Linked DNA regions of Homo sapiens. The protein of the gene in region 1 purifies or fractionates together with the protein of each later gene. This does not show direct contact. Each region holds a gene or a part of one and is shown on either strand. Other genes may lie near its edges.

Region 1 (3,815 bases):
AGGTACGTTATATACATGGAATCGTACAATATTTGTCTTTTTATGACTGGCTTATTCGACTTACTGTAATGTCTTCAAGGTTCATCCACGTTGTAGCATATTTCGGAATTGCCTTCTTTTTTGTGACATGTGTCAGGATTACCTTCCTTTTTAAGGCTGAATAATAAATGTTTCATTGTATGTATATACTACATTTTGTTTAGCCATTCATCTGTCATGAACAGTTGGGTTGCTTTCACCATTTTTTTTTTTTTCTTAGCTTCAGCTTAAAGGAGGCCACCTTTCGACTATTGTAAGTAATGCTGTGTCCCTCAGTTGTAAAACGTTATTTATTTATTTAAAATAGTATGGTGCTCTTGTCACCCAGGCTGGAATGCAATGGCGTGATCACAGCTCACTGTAGCCTCAACCTTCTACCTCAACTGCCCTGAGTAGCTGGGACTACAGATGTGTACCACCATGCCCTGGCTAATTTTTAAATTTTTTGTAGAGATGGAGTCTCTCTGTGTTGCCCAGGCTGGTTTTGAACTCCTGGCCTCAAGCAATCCTTTCACCTCGGCTTCCCAAAGTGCTGGGACTAAAGGTGTGAGCCACCATGCCCATCCTGTTTCTCAGTTTTTAAGAGCTGTTTGTATATTAGGGGTATTAGTCCCTTGTCAGTGGTATATGTTGCAAATATTTTCTCCCAATTTGTTAGCTTTTAATTTTTTTTCTGAGTTTTTAAATTTTTTTTTGTCATGCAAAAATTTTTAAATTTTTATGTAGTTAAATGTATCACTCTTTTACTGTTTGTGAATTTTAAATCATATTTGGCCCTTCTCTACTACGTAATACTAAGTGTTAATACAAAGGTTAAAGAGGAATTCACCAGTATCTCCTTTAGTAGTTGTATGGTTTCATTTTTTATCATTTAGATTTCTAATTCATTTGCAAGTTTATTCTTGTGAGTTATCTTTTTCCAACAGTGAATACTGTTCCAGCAGTATTTAATACAAAGTTCATCTTGACTCTAGTGATTTGAGATGCCATCTTTGCCATATTTTTTATTTCCATATGTACTTGAGTCTAATTCTGGACCTCATCTTTTTGTGTACATATGCAGCAGTACCTCACTGTTTCATTATGAAGGCTTTGTACAGTAGGTTTTAATGTCTGTTATACCTATCCCCCCTTACAGTTTTTTTTTCATTGTTTTCCTAGTCTTAAATTTTTGTTTTTCCATATGAATTTTAGTATCAACTTGTCAATATTATCTTGTCAGTATTTGTATTGGGATTGCATTGAATGTATAAATTAACTTGGGAAGAACTGACATCTTTATATTTTTGAATCCTATCCAGGAACAGGGGATGTCATTTCATTTGTTCAAGTTAACTTTAGTGTCTTTTAATAGTGATTTAAACTTTTTCTTGCACAGTTTTAATTAACTTTATTCCTAAGTATTTAATGATCTTGTTGCTATTGCAAATGGGATTTTTCTCTACCATAATGTCTTCTTTTATGGTTTGTATATATGAAGGCTATTGATTTTTATGTATTAATCTTATATTGTGCAACTTCACTGAGTGTTGTTTTTTTTTTTTTTTTTTTTTTTTTTTTGAGAAGGAGTCTCACTCTGTCGCCCAGGCTGGAGTGCAGTGGGGCAATCTTGGCTCACTGCAACCTCCGCCTCCTGAGTTTAAGTGATTCTCCTGCCTCAGCCTCCTGAGTAGCTGGGATTACAGGCATGCGCCACCATGCCCGGCTGATTTTTTGTATTTTTGGTAGAGACAGGGTTTCACCATGTTGGTCAGGCTAGCCTCGAACTCCTGACTTCTTGATCCTCCTGCCTTGGCCTCCCAAAGTGCTGGGATTACAGGCGTGAGCCTGTAATTTTTGTATTTTTGGTAGAGACAGGGTTTCACCGTGTTGGCCAGGATGGTCTCGAACTGCTGACCTCAAGCAATCCACCCACCTCAGCCTCGCAGAGCACTGGGATTACAGGCATGAGCCACCATGCCCCGCCTGCTGAGTTATTATTGAATAAATTTTATCATTGATTTTGGGGTTTTCCAGGTAGTATATCATATTATCTACAATTAGTGATAGCTTTTCTTTACCCTTTTTTTTTTTTTTTTTTTTTTTTGAGACGGAGTTTCGCCCTTGTTGCCCAGGCTGGAGTGCAATGGTGCAATCTTAGCTCACCACAACCTCTGCTTCCTGGGTTCAAGCAATTCTCCTGCTTCACCCTCCCGAGTAGCTGGGATCACAGGCATGCGCCACCATGCCCAGCTAATTTTGTATTTTTAGTAGAGACGGGGTTTCTCCATGTTGGTCAGGCTGGTCTTGAACTCCCGACCTCAGATGATCCACTCACCTCAGCCTCCCAAAGTGCTGGGATTACAGGCGTGAGTCACTGTGCTTGGCCTTTACCCATTTTTATATCTCTAATTGATTTATCTCTTCTAATTTTATTGGCTAATATTGCACAGGTGGATAGTAGCAGAGATAGTGGACATTTTTGCTTTGTTCTTGATATTAATCTCTGAAATTAATGGACATGCCTCTGAAATAAGGTTTGCCCATGAAATAAGATTTTGGCTTTAGGACTAAGGTGTATTTATATATTAAAGTATCTCAATTTCTGTATTTTCCTGAGTATTTTTTATTATGAATAGATATTGAATTTTGTCAGACTTTCCCTTCTGTGGAGATAATCATGTAATTATTTTTCCCTTAGATGATTACATTGTGTTTTCACATGTGATGTGTGTTTTTTTGTTAGTATCTATTTTTTATTTTTTTATTTTTGATACGGGGTCTCACTTTGTCACCCAGGCCGGCATACAGTGGTGCAATTACTGCTTACTGCTGCCTCAACTTCTCAGGCTCAAATGATCCTCCTCCGTCAGCCTCCCAAGTAGCTGGGATTACAGGCATGTGCCACTATACCCAGCTAATTTTAAAATTTTTTTTGTAGAGATGAGGTCTCCCTATGTTGCCCAGACTGGTCTCAAACTCCTGCCTCAGCCTCCCAAAGTGCTGGGATTATAGGCAGATTACAGTCATGAGCCACCATGTCTGTCCGTTAGTATTTCTTTAAATTTCTCCAACATTTTCATTGCATTTCCTTTTATCTGGAAGTTGTTTATCAGGAGATTCTCAAATTTTTAGATAGACACACCTTTCTTCTGTTGGTGGTGATGGTCGTGTTAGTAAATTCTAGTTTTAAGCATTATGATTGGCAAGTGTTGTTTTTAGTATCTTTACTTGATGGAAGGTGTTTTCTTTGTGACATGAGCAGTTTTTGTGTGTGTGTGTGTGTGTGAATGTGCTGTGAGCACTGGAGAAGAATATATCATTTCTGTTATCAAGGTGTGGAGTTTGATATACATCTATATCATCTCCTCTGTTATGTTGTTTAGATCAATCATCTGTCTCCTCATTTTTTCTCCACTTGATTTGTCTTTAAAAAAATTTTTTTTTTTTGAGACAGGGTCTCACTGTGTATCCCAGGCTGGAATGCAGTGGTGTGATCATGGCTCACTGCAGCCTTGAACTCCTGGGTTCAAGTGATCCTCCCACTTCAGTCTGCTCAGTAGCTGGGACTACAGGTGCATATCACCATGCCTGGCTAATTTTTATTTTATTTATTTATTTATTTATTTATTTTAGAGATGGGGGTCTCACTATCTTGCCCAGGGTGGTCTCGGACTCCTGGAGTCAAAGGATCCTCCAACCCCAGCCTCCCAAAGTGCTGGGATTACAGGCATGAGCCACCAAGCCTGGCCATCATTTTAAAATATTTTTGTAGAGACAGGGTCTCACTATGTTGC
Region 2 (3,815 bases), on another chromosome or scaffold:
CAGTGGGTTCCACTGTCTCAGCCTGCCAGCTCCCTCAAGGGCTCCTGACCTCTCCAACAGGGCTCAGTCCCCAGACTGGTGAGCATAGTAACAGCCATTCTGTCTCCTGGGGCTTCCCAGGAGCCAATCCCCAACAGAAAATGCTTCACAGGAAAATGCATCAGGGCTGCCCCAGGCCCACCCGGGCTTCTGGGTGCTCAGGAGGATCCTGCTGTCAACTCTGCAATGGAGGTAGCCTTGCAGCTGCCTGGGATGCTGCTAGAACTTGTCTGGGTCTATACTATTTCTTCACCCCCTTCCCTTTTACAGAAGGGAAAACTGAGGCCAATTCATTCAGTCATTTAGCAAACATTTGTGGAGGGTGCACGATGTCTCAGCACTGGGGATTCTATGGTGGAAAAGACCAAGACTCTGCACTGCAGAGGGAGAAACTCAGAAGACAACTGGAAAATGTGGTGAACGTCAGGGAGGGGAGTGGGGCTGCTCTCCCCAGGGAGGTCAGAGGTCTCCAGGAGGAGGTGGCATCTGAGATGAGAACCAAGGGATGAGAAGCTGTGTAACTTGCCAGGGGCGGGAGAGTTCCAGGCCAAGGGAAAGGTGCAAAGGCCCCGGGGTAGCAAAGAATTTGGTGCCTTTGAAGAACAGAAAGGAGACCCTGTAGCTGGTATTCAGCTAGCAAGGGGGAGACAGGACCTGAGAGATAGGCAGGGGCTAGATCTACAAAGCCCTTAGGCCATGAGGAGTGAGGAGTTTGGGTTTATTTTCTCTCTTGTGGGAAGCTTTTTAGTAGTGGAGTGATGAGCTAATTCTAGCAAGGGTGTGACTTGGGGAGCGGGTGAGGGAAAAGGCAGGAGACTGGTGGGGAGGCTGCTGCAGTGGGCAGGGGGTAGTGGGGGGCCTGGACAAGGGCTTCAGCTGCAACCAGAAGGAGAATGGTGGGTGGGTTTCAGGATATATTTTAGAGGAAGTCCTGCTGGAGGATGAATGTGGAGGGTGAGGAAAGAGGAATCAATGATGACTTCTGGGACTTTGACCTGAGCTCCTGGGTGGGTGTTGGTGCCATTAACAGAGTCGGGAAGAGTAAGGAGGAGCAGACTGGGGGGATGGGGGAAGACCAGGGTTTGGTTCTGAACATATTGAGCCTGAGATGCCTGTTAGACTTCTAAGTGGAAGATGTCAGCTGGCAGTTTGGTGATGCAAGTTGAGAGCTCAGGGGGAAGACGGGCTGGAAGTAAAAATTTGGAAGTCGTTGGTGTAGAGATGGGATTTAAACCCGAGAGTAGATGAGCTCATCCTGGGGGTAAGTGTAGATGGGGGAGTGTTTGTGGACCCAGCACACACCAGCCTTTCATGAACAGATGCCTGGTGCCCTAGGCCAAAGGGGCCTCCTCGCTGTCCCTCCAGCTCCTCTTTGTCACCCCCGCCCCGCTACACCCCCCACCCCAGTGCTCCTCTAGGGCCAAGAGTGGGTTGTCCTAGGGCAGGCCAAGTCTGGTGGGAATGTGGCAGAGGGGCCGAGAGCATGGTGTGGAGTCAGACCTGCCGAGTATGAAGCTCAACTCTGCCACTTACAAGCAGAGAAACCCTGGGCATGTTCCCCAAACCCTGCCCAGCTGCTATTTCCTCATCTGTAAAATGGGGATAATAATAGCACATCCCTTGTGAGATTATGGTGAGTGTTGAAACAATCCCCAGGAAGCACTCGGGGCAGGGCCTGGCATGGAGGACGCGCTGCTTCTATCCCTGCCTGGGCGTAGACAGGCAAGCCCTCTGGGATGGCGTGGGCTGGGAGGTGCACCAGGATGGGGGCACGGGTTGGGGATCTTCTCCATCCAGGGTAGGGTAGGGGTCCTGAGGAGCGACCCTCTGCCCAGAGCCGAAGGAGCAGCCTGGGAGGAAGGGTTTTAGGTTTCCCCGTAACTCTGCCTACCCCCCACCCCCAGGCTTTCTGTCTCCCCCAATGCCCTTGTCCCTTCCTCCCCATTCTTTTTTTTCTTTTTTTTTTCTTTTTTTGAGATGGAGTCTCACTCTGTCACCCAGACTTGGAATGCAATGGCGCGATCTCAGCTCACTGCAACCTCCACCTCCCAAGTTCAAGTGATTCTCCTGCCCTAGCCTCCCAAGTAGCTGGGATTACAGGCATGTACCACCACGCCCGGCTAATTTTTGTATTTTTAATAGAGATGGAGTTTCATCATGTTGTCCAGGCTGGTCTCAACTCCTGACCTCCAGTGATCCACCCACCTCAGCCTCCTAAAGTGCTGGGATTACAAGTGTGAGCCATAGCACTCAGCTCTCTGCTCTGCATTCTATCCCAGCATGGACGTGATGCTGGTCTCTGGACTCTGAGAGCCCTTCTCTTTGTCAAACCTAGCCTTTCCCAGGGGAGACAGCCCCCTCCCCACTATTAAGCTCTGTCTCTTCCTCTGAACACACCAGGATGCATCATAGTGGTCCCATTTCTCAGATTTGGAGATGGAGGCCAAAGTCTATTAGGGGATAAATGAGACATCCTAGGCAGAGTATCGATGACCTGGATGGGGCAGAGGGAACTAATATTTCCTTGGCACTTGCTGTGTGCCAGGCCCTGAGGATACAGTTGTGAGTCAGCCAGACCCATCCTGCTTGGGGAGGCTTGCGGCTGATCGGGGCAGACAGACATGAAATCCACAAAGAGCACGTTTGTCGTGTATTTTGAAGGAGGCTGCTCCTGCGTTGCAAGGAGCCTGACATTGAGGGGAGGGGGGCTTTCTGGGCCATCAGAAGGCCTCCTGAGGAGGTAGCATTTAAGATTGGACCTGAGCAAGACTAGGACGTGGTCAAGCCAAGGTGTGGACTTCCGCAGGTGCAGGGACTGTCCTGAGCAAAGAGTTAGGGGGAAAAGAGCCCAACGGGTTTGAGAACCCGGATGAAGGATGAAGGGCAGTGTGGCTGAGTGAGGAGCAGAGGCCAGAGGTGAGACTAGGAGGGTTGGGGAGGCGGGGCTTGAGGGGCCTGTTAGGGGCCCTTTGACACCCCCCCACCCACCTGGAGAGCTGCCACACTCTGCTCCAGCCTCTGCATGCTCAGAGCACGCAGCTGCCACGTGCTAAGCACACACTGCCTGTGGGCCACATGTGGAGCACACCCCTGGGGCTGGAAACATGGAAATGCACCCATCCACAGCCAGAGGACATCCTCTCCAAACCCACACCCCACCGTGGCCCAGAGGAGCTGGGAGTGAAAGGTGACCCTGGCAGACAGCATCTGATCTCGGCGCCAGGAGAATTGAGTTTCCCAGGCCCTGGCTGGGTCAGAGGGTCGGACCCAGGGAAGGGGGTGCAGGTGGGAGAGTGGAGAGGGTGGGCAGGGCAGGAGTGGAGGAAGTGGGTCATGGACACAGTGCTGTCAGGCGTGGAGAAACGGACGCCCACATGCCATATGTCTATGTATTCCAGTTATAAATCAAGCTGAGGAATTGCTAAATGCAATACATTCTGCCCTCCCACCATAACAAACACACCTTCATCACAACCTGACCAGCTGGGTTTGAATTCAGAATTTCAGACTCCTTGGAGTTCCGTGGTGGATGTGGAGGCGTGGGGACAGGTGTCCCCTCTCCGCAGGCTGCCCCGTCATTTCCCTCTTTATCCCTCCAGGGTTCACTTGTGAACACCCCAGCCCTCATATCCCAGCTCCAGAAAGGACCCACCTTGGGCCTGGGCTGGTCCCCACTTGGGCCTGGGCGGTGGGCTTGGAACTGCTTGAGAGGGAATTCTGGGGCATCTGAGCGTAGCCTACGAGGGGAGCACAGGCTTCAGCTGGGCACCTCCCCT

The links.
Region 2: the proteins of CABIN1 (region 1) and DNM1 purify together in Homo sapiens (affinity purification with western blotting, with the first as the bait; one study listed by BioGRID). This does not show direct contact.

The regions. Positions count from the first base shown.
Region 1 is NC_000022.11:24,017,550-24,021,364, forward strand, and holds part of CABIN1 (calcineurin-binding protein cabin-1), read left to right. Parts: intron 1-3,815. UniProt on the Homo sapiens protein: May be required for replication-independent chromatin assembly. May serve as a negative regulator of T-cell receptor (TCR) signaling via inhibition of calcineurin. Inhibition of activated calcineurin is dependent on both PKC and calcium signals.
Region 2 is NC_000009.12:128,206,064-128,209,878, forward strand, and holds part of DNM1 (dynamin-1), read left to right. Parts: intron 1-3,815. UniProt on the Homo sapiens protein: Catalyzes the hydrolysis of GTP and utilizes this energy to mediate vesicle scission and participates in many forms of endocytosis, such as clathrin-mediated endocytosis or synaptic vesicle endocytosis as well as rapid endocytosis (RE).